Linked DNA regions of Homo sapiens: region 1 is linked to region 2. The links come from fine-mapping of genetic effects on gene expression. A gene starts in region 2. The other region holds a variant in brackets. All regions are shown on one strand. Distances are between the middles of the regions. Region 1 overlaps MAML1 (mastermind like transcriptional coactivator 1). Region 2 holds the start of MAML1 (mastermind like transcriptional coactivator 1).

The links.
Region 1: its variant is fine-mapped to the expression of MAML1 in whole blood (TOPMed, PIP above 0.99). The same link has a PIP of 0.9 or more in breast, cerebellar hemisphere, cerebellum, gastroesophageal junction, lung and pancreas.

What each region holds. Positions count from the first base shown.
Region 1 is chr5:179,771,374-179,776,742 of GRCh38, forward strand. MAML1 (mastermind like transcriptional coactivator 1) reads left to right here. Exons shown (of 5, transcript NM_014757.5): 5 at 2,522-5,369. The coding sequence ends at 3,504. Among named protein-coding and RNA genes, the nearest start is that of LTC4S, 20 kb to the right of the region's middle. RefSeq lists a silencer at 1,782-1,982. The variant C/G (reference allele first, on the strand shown) is at 2,535.
Region 2 is chr5:179,730,841-179,736,191 of GRCh38, forward strand. It overlaps MAML1 (mastermind like transcriptional coactivator 1), which reads left to right and starts at 1,982. Exons shown (of 5, transcript NM_014757.5): 1 at 1,982-2,587. The coding sequence starts at 2,273. It overlaps CANX (calnexin), which reads left to right. Exons shown (of 15, transcript NM_001746.4): 15 at 1-801. RefSeq lists enhancers at 1,525-1,624, 2,386-2,886 and silencers at 2,075-2,274, 2,515-2,574.

The DNA of each region.
Region 1 (5,369 bases), 41 kb after region 2:
GTTTGCCTAAGGGGCCTGGTTTTCTAGTTACTCCACGGCATCAGGAGAAGAGGGCACAGAGGCAAACCACTAGAACTACCTTTGCTGGGTCCCTGGCTGTACAGTTTTCTGAAGCAAAATCATTTCTAGTTGGAGGACATCTTATCAGCAGGAAATAGCTTCTGTAATTCTCAAGAAAGTTCTTTGCTTCTGCTTTTATGTGTCTTCAAAAAATGACTCCTATCTTCCAGATAAGGACTTAATGCACTTGCGTGGCCTTTGGCTTCTTTCTCTCCTCCTGTCTGCTCACTTGAATATCACAGATGGCAGCATCACTAGTGGACAGTTGGCCAGAAAAGGGCAGGAAGCACACTTGAGTCTAGCTGTCGCCTCTGAGATGTGCCAGGGAACTTCATAGGCCATCCCTCCAGAAATGCACAAAGATTTCAGGGAATGGATACAGGAAGCTCTGGTCTGCCCGCCTTCCTAGCTCCTCTCAGAATGTCTTAGAAACCTCTGTTTTTCCTTATTTGGGACCTTGCTATAAAGGGTCCCAGAGAGACTGACCACAGCTGTGTGTCCTGGAGGAGACCAGGTACGGTTTTATGTATGTGCTACCTGGGGTCAACGTGGGGTTGAAATCTGCAGGCATTTCAGAAGCATGGGTCTGACCCATGTTTTCTGCCTTCAGACCCATCTGACATTTTGTGGATTATTGATGGGAATGAAATAGCCGGTTTCAGCTCTCCTCTTTTCCTCAACCCAATTTCATTGTTGTTGTTTTGAAACAGAGTCTTGGTCTGTCGCCCAGGCTGCAGTGCAGTGGCACGATCTTGGCTCACTACAACCTCCACCTCCTAGGTTCAAGCGATTCTCCTGCCTCAGCCTCCCAAGCAGCTGGGATTACAGGCGCCTGCCACCACGCCCGGCTCATTTTTGTATTTTTAGTAGAGATGGGCTTTCACCATGTTAGCCAGGCTGATCTCACATACCTGACCTCGTGATCTGCCCGCCTTGGCCTCCCAAAGTGCTAGGATTACAGGTGTGAGCTACCGTGCCCGGCCCCAATTTTTATTATATGGTTGCTAGTAGAGAGGAAGAAGAACAAAGCACTGAGTTACGGCCAATCCCTGAACAATGACTCTCCTACCCACAAAACCTAATTCAGTTAATGGTGTTGTCATATGTCCATTGCTTAAGCCAGGAGGCCTAGACAGCAGTTCCCTGAGCATAGGGGTGCTTTCTCTTCCACCCTCTGCTGTCTCTCCAGCACAGCACCTGCCACAGAGTGGGTACTCAGTGAAGATCTGGTAATTTCCTGCGACTCCTCCCTCCTTTGGCCACCTTGTCATTTCATAGTATAAATGGTGTGCCATAAGATGGTATATTGTCTGGTGAGATGTTGTCACACAGTTCTGCACCTCCACCCCCCATTCCCACATGGTCTGCCCTCCCTCATCTCCGTGACTGAACAGCCTCTCCCCAGCATGGTCTCAGCCACACTCTCAGTCCAGCCACTCTTGGGCTTTACAACCCTGTTCTTTGTTTGTTTGTTTGAGACAGAGTCTTGCTCTTTCGCCTAGGCTGGAGTGCAGTGGCATGATCTCGGCTCACTGCAGCCTCCGCCTCCCGGATTCAAGCAATTCTCCTGCCTCAGCCTCCCGAGTAGCTGGGGGCGCGCGCCGCCACGCCTGGCTAATTTTTGTATTTTTAGTAGAGACAGGGTTTCACTATGTTGGCCAGGATGGTCTTGATCTCCTGACCTCGTGATTCGCCCGCCTCGGTCTCCCAAAGTGCTGGGATTACAGGCGTGAACCACCGCGCCCGGCCACAACCCCGTTCTTCACACGCCATCCACAGCTCTTCCCTATCTGGCCGGAACTAGCTCTTCCATTTTATCTCTAACCAGCTGGCCACTGTCTGCATATCCCGGCCACGGCCAGTCTCTGAAAGTTCCCCACACAGATGCCTTTTTCTGACTCTGCCTTTGCACACACTTGCCTGGAATGCTCTTTTTCCCCAAACTGTTAAATTGCTAAACTTCTGTGCTTTTAAACCTAGTGGATTCATCACTGTCTCTCTCAAGCCTTGCCCAAGGCTTCCCAGATGCCAGGGCTTCCAGCCTGCACCCTGCAGCCTGCTGGCCAGGCGCGCCCCATCGCGCCCCATTGCGCCCCATCGTGCCATGTGCTAACTTTGCCTCCCAGAGGCGGATCTTGCGTTGGGTCCACCTCAGAGTCCCCGGTGCCCACCACAGGGTCCCCACAGAGCAGAAATTTGGTGGGTGCTTGAAAGTTAGATGAAGTAGGTCACTGGTTTTCTCTCCCCTGGGGCTTTGCCCTTCCTCTGTGCCTTTCTGAACCCCATCATTGTTTCAGAGACCAGGCCTCCATTCCACCTGTGGAAGGCTTTCTGCCCCATGGCCCCCGGGGCCCTCTTCCCAGTGTGCCGTGAACGTGAGACTTCTGGTGCTGCGGCTCGAGTCTCAGAGGGACCCAGTGGTGGTCGACTCCTGACTGCCAGACTCTTCTCTGTCTTGTAGGGTCCTCTGCTGC[C/G]GTGCCCGGCATGAACACCTTGGGTCCATCCAACTCCAGCTGTCCTCGAGTGTTCCCTCAGGCTGGGAATCTGATGCCAATGGGCCCTGGACATGCTTCAGTTTCCTCTCTCCCCACAAACTCAGGCCAACAGGACCGGGGTGTGGCTCAGTTCCCTGGCTCCCAAAACATGCCTCAGAGCAGCCTCTATGGCATGGCTTCTGGCATAACCCAGATAGTTGCCCAGCCCCCGCCACAGGCCACCAATGGACATGCCCACATTCCACGGCAGACCAACGTGGGCCAGAACACCTCCGTCTCAGCTGCCTATGGGCAGAACTCTCTGGGAAGCTCTGGCCTCTCCCAGCAGCACAATAAGGGGACCCTGAACCCTGGTTTAACAAAGCCACCGGTCCCAAGGGTGTCACCAGCCATGGGAGGCCAGAATTCCTCCTGGCAGCATCAGGGAATGCCGAACCTCAGTGGCCAGACCCCAGGGAACAGCAACGTGAGTCCCTTCACTGCAGCCTCCAGTTTCCACATGCAGCAGCAGGCCCACCTGAAAATGTCTAGCCCGCAATTCTCCCAGGCAGTGCCCAACAGGCCCATGGCTCCCATGAGCTCAGCAGCTGCCGTGGGGTCCTTGCTACCCCCAGTGAGTGCACAGCAGAGGACCAGCGCCCCTGCCCCAGCACCACCCCCAACAGCCCCTCAGCAGGGCTTGCCTGGCCTGAGCCCAGCAGGGCCTGAGCTGGGGGCCTTCAGCCAGAGCCCTGCCTCACAGATGGGCGGTCGGGCGGGGCTGCACTGCACCCAGGCCTACCCTGTGCGGACCGCGGGCCAGGAGCTGCCTTTTGCCTATAGCGGGCAGCCAGGTGGCAGTGGGCTCTCTAGTGTGGCTGGACACACCGATCTGATCGACTCCCTGCTGAAGAACAGGACTTCAGAGGAGTGGATGAGTGATTTGGACGACCTGTTAGGGTCTCAGTAATGGAAGGATTTGTAGTGTTTTTAGTGTTCATTCATCCTATATTTTTATTCTCAGATTCAAAGAAAGAGCAACTACTTTGGACCAAAAGCCCATGGCCTGGGGAGCTGGGCAGGTAGAGCCCAAGCTCCAGGTGAGGCCTGGCCCTGGGCAGGGTCTGTGGCTGCGCCCCTCAGGCCAGCAGTTGAGGTCCATCGGGCTGGCCCCAGCCCATCTGCTGGCATCAGTACCTGGTGTTGGGACAGCAGGATAGGGTTCTAAAGGTGGTTTTCTATCCAAACGACCAAAAAACCAACAGTAACACCAGTGAAACCCCACACTGTCGGGCTTATAAAAATCTGTGCCATCATGGTGATTTTATCCAAGACTGCTCCACTTACCCCAGTGCTGGGGACAAGTTTCTGTTGAAACTTTAGATAGCAGAATTATTTGCAATTTGTAGCATAGAAAAGATTTTTAAATTTTTTTACAAAAGGTTTTTAAACAGATTAGGGTAGGTGATGGTTTAAATCAATTAAGTGGCATTGGAAACCTAGGGTTTCCTTTTGATTAAGAGCCTTTTTTGTTTCTGCTCTTTGTCAGCTTTCAGGGGAGAAGGAGGCCACTGGAAAATTATTTCCCTAAGTGCAGGCTGTTGACTGCGTATGCCAAAAAGGGACAGGAGGCATGGGATAGCAGGTCTGGTGACACAGCTAGGGTCTTCCTAGCAGCTCCTCCTCCTCCCTCCCAAGGCCCCCAGGAATCCCTTCCTCCCATGTCCTGGCAGCAGGACCCCAGGCTACATATGGAAGGTAGAGATGTGGGGGTCCTGTATCCTGGAGTATTATGTCTCCCCACCTTCTGCAGTTTTCTCTGAACATGTATGTTGCCCATGGTGGGAGCGTGGTCACTGTGCAGTTGTGCACAGATGTCTTTCCTTTACCGTTGGCCTTTCTGTCTGCCTCTCCTTCCTCTCTGCAGCCCAAATGGAAAACAATTATTTACTCCATTGGAGGGAAAGGAAGAGTCTTAGAATTCCTAAGGGAACCTTAGCATAAAGGTTTTGGGGAAGGAGGCCGTAGGCCGGCCCGGAGGAAGCAATTCCACTTGGTTTGACAACTTCTGCCACTCCCATGTCAGATGACTTGCACTTCTTAAAGAGATTGCTTTATAACACTAAGACATCCTTTCTAAAGATTCAAGTGGACTTGACTAAGCTGAGGGTCCACGAAATAGAATATGACATGTGAGCTGTTTTTGGAAAACGAAGATGGAGAGAGCACTTCCCCGTAACGAAAGCAAAGTGGTAAGCACAGGGTGAGACCCTTTTACACAGAATGGTGGAGAGAAAAGAGAATGCTGAAAAGTGGCTCAGATGCAGAGTGTTCTGTGGAGAAACTGCAGCCCCACTTCTGTTTCCCTGGAGTCTCCCAATGGATCATTCAGGAGTGTCCTATGTGAGAATTGAGCCAAGGAAAATACTCATGCAACCAGCCTGAGTCGCGGTGAGGGGACGAGAGGTTGTACACACATTGGTAGTTATTTTGCACCAGCAGTGCCTTTCTCACTGGGGGTACTTGGACCCTCAGATCTTCTTTTCTAATAGCCATTTGCCACCCCAAGTGGTATGTCGGCCATTTCTCCTTAAAACACCTTCCCTACCTTTCCCATGTACTCAGTTTAGCTCTCAAAGAAGGGGTGAATCATAAAGCCAGTGAAAATTTCACCCTCTGAGGGAGTTCCCCAATCTGAAGGGGAAGAGGGTGACCTCAGCGGCTTTTCTCCCAAAAATCGGCTGAAGGCTGGTTGTGGATCCTTGTTCCTCTCCTGACCCCATCTGGCTGCTGCCCCGTCTCCCACCCCTGTCCCCGGGGCTCGCTGGCCCTGCA
Region 2 (5,351 bases):
CATTTTCTTATCCACAAAGTACTCCTCACTTTTCAATTTGTCATGTTACTAAATGGTGTTACATTAAAGCCCTGTGTTAAGTGTCTGCTTTTGACTGAATTTCTTCATAGTAACCTTCAGTGTGTGTGTGTGACTATGTTCAATTAGTGGGTTGATCTTCGTATAATTGGCCACTATGTGAGAGTTCACTACTAGGCAGAAACTATTATGGACAGTGAAATAATGACTTTTATCTCACCACGTGAGTTTGATGCAGTCTTTTCTGTCTAGCCCTTGCCTCTTCCTGCCCATGTGATTGCGGTGCAGTAGTTTCTGTTGTATAATAGTGTGGACAGCAGCTCAGAAAAGGAGGGAATGCTACTGATAATTTGTAGATAATATTCTTTAAGACTTAGGGGAACCATTGAACTTTGAAATTTTTATTAGAAAATTATTTGTTCAGAATCAGACTCCATTATTTTACATATACTTAAATACTTTAGGGGTATTTTTGAAAGTTAGCCCAGTTTTTTATGTGCTATTAAATTTTTAGATTACATACTAAAGAAAAGTATGTACACAGAATGTAGTGCTCCTAGTTACTATTTTTTCTATTAAGAAATAGTTTAGTTCTGGTGTAAAATTTGTTTGAATGCTAAAAAAAAAAAAGCAGGACTGCATTATGGCACTTTTGCCTTGGTGGCCCACTTTCTCCATTTAAAACATTAGGATTTGTATTTTTCTGCTGCGTTTGTATGAAGACATATTTGATTGTTGTTTTCTCTTGATTTTAAAATAAAACCTCATGAGCCCTAGTAAAAAGCTAGAGTAACGAATGTTTGAACTACTGATGGTGTATCTCAATGTGCAGCCTCCTGCCACCTCCTGCTTAACCTTTTAGCAATTAGAGTGCCCATATCTAGAGTTCCTGATATCCTTTGGCATCACACTATCTAGTTTTAGTACTAACACTGTTTGATTGCTCCAGTCCCTCTACTCCCCTTTGCCTATTAGTTTTAATAATGGGGCATAATTTGTCTTGGTTTGGTTTTGTTGAGTAACTCAGTTTTACCTAAAGGACTGTTTTTGGTCCGGCGCGGCGGCTCACGCCTGTAATCGCGGTACTTTGGCAGGCCGAGGTGGGCGGATCACCTGAGGTCAGGAGTGGGAGACCAGCCTGACCGACATGGAGACACCCCGTCTCTACTAAAAATACAAAATTAGCCGCGCGTGGTGGCGCATGCCTGTAATCCCAGCTACTGGAGAGGCTGAGGCAGGAGAATCGCTTGAGCCTGGAAGGCGGTGGTTGTGGTGAAACGTCGTCCTTTGCATTTCCAGTTCCCTCTAATGGAGCTGCACTCTTGCATGCTTTTGCTCACATCTTCTGGACTTTTTTTTTAAGTAGTGAGTAATACTGCACTTTTGAAACTTGCTCGGGCTTTTACAAATAGGTGGAAACTACCAGTGATTCGGAATGTTGCAAGAGGAAACTACCAGCTCACTAGACGATTCTGACCAATTATGGGGCTGGATACAAGGAATAAGGTCAAAGTAAAACGGCTGACATTAAAATAGCGTGGCTACTTAGAGTTTATCAAAGTCGAAATTTAAAAAATAATTTAAAAAAAAGGTCTCTGTACTGCCAGGCGGGCGACAGGGACTGGCCAGCTGCGCCGCACTCGCCTGCCAGATTCCCCTTTTCTCGGGGTAGCCGGAAGGGCCTGCCTTCAGCGGGTGCTGTGCAGGAAACCAATAGCCGCCTCTTGGACGGGCTCCTGTCAGTCACGCTTAGCTCCGCCCCCAGGATTAAGGCCCGCCCAGGGGCTTCCCTCCGCCCTTCGCTTGAGAATTCCTTTTAAATACCGCTCTGGCGCCCGAGCGCGCCTCTTGCGTGCTCGTCCCCACGCCCTCGGGCGGCCGGTTCTTCCTTCTCTGATTGGCCAGGGCCCCTGCTCATCAGTCGTGATGCACAAGGTCTCTTACCGAGGCCCCGCCTTCTTCCGAGAGGCCCGAAAACAATTTTAAGATGGCGGCCGCGGCGGTAGCGCGGAAAACAATGGGGCCGGGGCGGTGGGGAGAGGCCGAGGCTTGAGGTAGGCAGCAAGCGCCGGCTGGGGGTCGGGCCGAGCGGGGCAGGAGGAAAACCCGCCGCCGCGCGCGAGCCCGCTCCGCTGCCCTCGGGGGCATGGCGCGGCCGTGAGGCGGAGAGGGGTAGCCGCGGGGAGCGAAGCCCGCAGTGCCAGCCGGCCCCGAGAGGCCCGGCCCCGGGCCCGGCCCGTGCAGCCCGCGGCCCATGGTGCTGCCCACCTGCCCCATGGCGGAGTTCGCGCTGCCGCGGCACAGCGCGGTCATGGAGCGCCTTCGCCGGCGCATCGAGCTGTGCCGGCGCCACCACAGCACCTGCGAGGCCCGCTACGAGGCCGTGTCGCCCGAGCGCCTGGAGCTGGAGCGCCAACACACCTTCGCCCTGCACCAGCGCTGCATCCAGGCCAAGGCCAAGCGCGCCGGGAAGCACAGGCAGCCGCCCGCCGCCACGGCCCCGGCGCCCGCCGCCCCGGCCCCGCGCCTGGACGCCGCTGACGGCCCCGAGCACGGCCGCCCGGCCACGGTGAGTAGGGCGCGGGAAGGCGCTTGTCGTGGCGGCAGCCCCCTCTCCCGAAAACGCTTCCTCTGACGCGGATCGGGCCGCTGGGAGACTTCCCCAGGCGTCCGCGACTCCTGGATCTGGCTGGAGAGAGGGTAACATGGCAGGGAGCTGAGAGGTTGTCATCTTTGGGAAGTGGCACGGTGGCGTTACTTTGGGAAAACAGCGCCTTGAGGGCCTTGCAGGAGGCCCGACCTGGGAAGGCTGGCGAACGCTAACCGGAGGGTTTTTCTTCCAGACTTGATTCCGGGATGTTGAGATCTTTATTCGAAATAGACTAGCATTCGAGTCGCCTGTGATGGAGGGAGTTCCTGCACCGTAGGCCTGGCCTCATTTATTCTGCAAATGTTTATTGGGTCCTTGCCCTTTACAAGATCCTGTGCTGTGAGCAGGATCAGGGCTTTCATGTGGAAATAAGTCGGCCTTTGGTTGACCAACTGAAACTCCTCTGAATGGAAAATCAAGAAATTTTTGGAAAACTTAGTAAAATGTTCAATGAGTTGCATATAAGTATTCCTTGTTTAGGTAGCCTGAACTTTGTGAACTTGAGATTCCTGCAATATTGTTGACAATTCTAGTTTTAATTTATCAGGCCTGTTTAAAATCTCTGATGATGTTAGATTGTTGGTCAATTATTACTCCCTTTGGGCTCTCAGTAAATGTTCCTGAAATTTGTTGGTTAGAGGTTTTTCTTCCTGAAACAGATTTACAAAAGAGACAAGGTTTTTCAGTGGTTTTCTTGGGGATTTTAGTTTAAAACCAATGTTAAAATCTAATTTGTTATGTGTATTTTTAAATTCATACCTTTATTATCTCTCACCTGGGCTATTGCAGTGCCTGTCCCTAGCTAACTAACCAGTCTGTAGGCATTTAGTTTCTTTCTCCCTTATTCTCGAAATGCTGGAAATCCTTCTCTTGCTTGAAAGGATGAAGTTCAAAGTCTTTAGTTTGGCATTTGGGACCAGTCTGACCTAACCTATCTTTTAATGTCCCTCACAGGTCCTCTGCTCTGGTTGAATTATTTTTCTCATTCTCTTCCACACTAGCCTCGATTGCTGGGTTAGAAGAAAAAAAACCACTCAGATTTCATTGCTTATTGTATCAACTGGTCAAGCCTTCTCATCTTCACTTTTCTCATCTGTAAACTAGGGGCATGTTGGGCTTATTATCGCCCCGTGTTCTTTCCCTGCCCTCCCCTCACTCTGTCGCCCAGGCTGGAGTGCAGAGGCACAGTCATGTCTCACTGCAGCCTCAACCTTCCTGGCTCAAGACTCCTCAATCCTCCCGCCTCAGCCTCCTCAGTCCTCCCGCCTCAGCCTCCTGAGTAACTGGGATCAACCACAGCTGCACATCACCATGCCTGGCTAAATAAAAAAAGTTTTTTTTCTGTTAGAGATGGGGTCTCACTATATTGCCTAGGCTGGTCTTGAACTCCTGGGCTCAAGTGATCCTTTCTTCCAACTTGATCTCTGAAAGTGCTGAGATTATAGGCATGAGCCACCGCACCGTGCCGCCCCCAGGATTCTTTTAAGAATAAAAAGAAATGAGTGTGGACATGAAAATACAGTATTTCGGGGGAAGGGATAGCATTGGGAGATATACCTAATGCTAGATGACGAGTTAGTGGGTGCAGCGCACCAGCATGGCACATGTATACGTATGTAACTAACCTGCACATTGTACACATGTACCCTAAAACTTAAAGTATGATAATAATAAATAAATAAATAAAATACAGTATTTCATAAATTTAAAGGCCGCCTGTGGGACCCTCCTCCATCCCTTTCAGAATCCTGCCACCCTGCCAGTCCCAGCTTATCTCTTTCTTCTGCCTTAAAGCTAGTTCCTGACCAGCCTAACCCACAGCAGTAAGAATCTCCTTTGTCAAAACATTTAGGAAACATATTATCTATGCTATTTGTTTTATTTATTTATTTATTTTGAGATGGAGTCTTGCCCTGTTGCCCAGGCTGGAGTGCAATGGCGCGATCTAGGGTCACAGCAATCTCCGCCTCCCAGGTTCAAGTGATTCTCCTGCCTCAGCCTCCCTACTAGCTGGGATTACAGGTGCTGGCCACCATGCCCAGCTAATAATTTTTGTATTTTTAGTAGAGATGGGGTTTCACCATGTTGACCAGGCTGGTCTCGAACTCCTGACCTCAGATAATCCACCCACCTCGGCCTCCCAAAGTGCTGGGATTACAGGTGTGAGCCACTGCACCTAGCCTATTTATTTTTTTTTGAGACAGCGTCTCGCCCTGTCACCCAGGCTGGAGTGTAGTGACATGATTTCTGCTCACTGCAACCTCTGCCTCCCCGGTTCAAGCGATTCTCCTGCCTCAGCTTCCTGAGTAGCTGGGATTACAGGCGCACACTACCACGCTTGGCTTATTTTGGTATTTTTAGTAGAGACAGGGTTTCTCCTTGTTGGGCAGGCTGGTCTCGAACCCCTGACCTCGTGATCCACCCACCTCGGCCTCCCAAAGTGCTGGGATTACAGGCGTGAGCCACCGCGCCCGGCCTATGCTATTTATTTTTAGCACATGGTCACTTGTTACTTTAGGTCGCATCTTTTCAACTAGACTGTCAGCTCTTGGAGGCAGGGAGGGCTCACACTTGGGTAGTACACATCTGAGGTGCATCTTAAGTGCCTGTTTGTTGAATTATTGATAGAAACTTGGTAGTGCTTTACTCAGTAATCTCTCCTCCTATACACTAACTTCAAAAA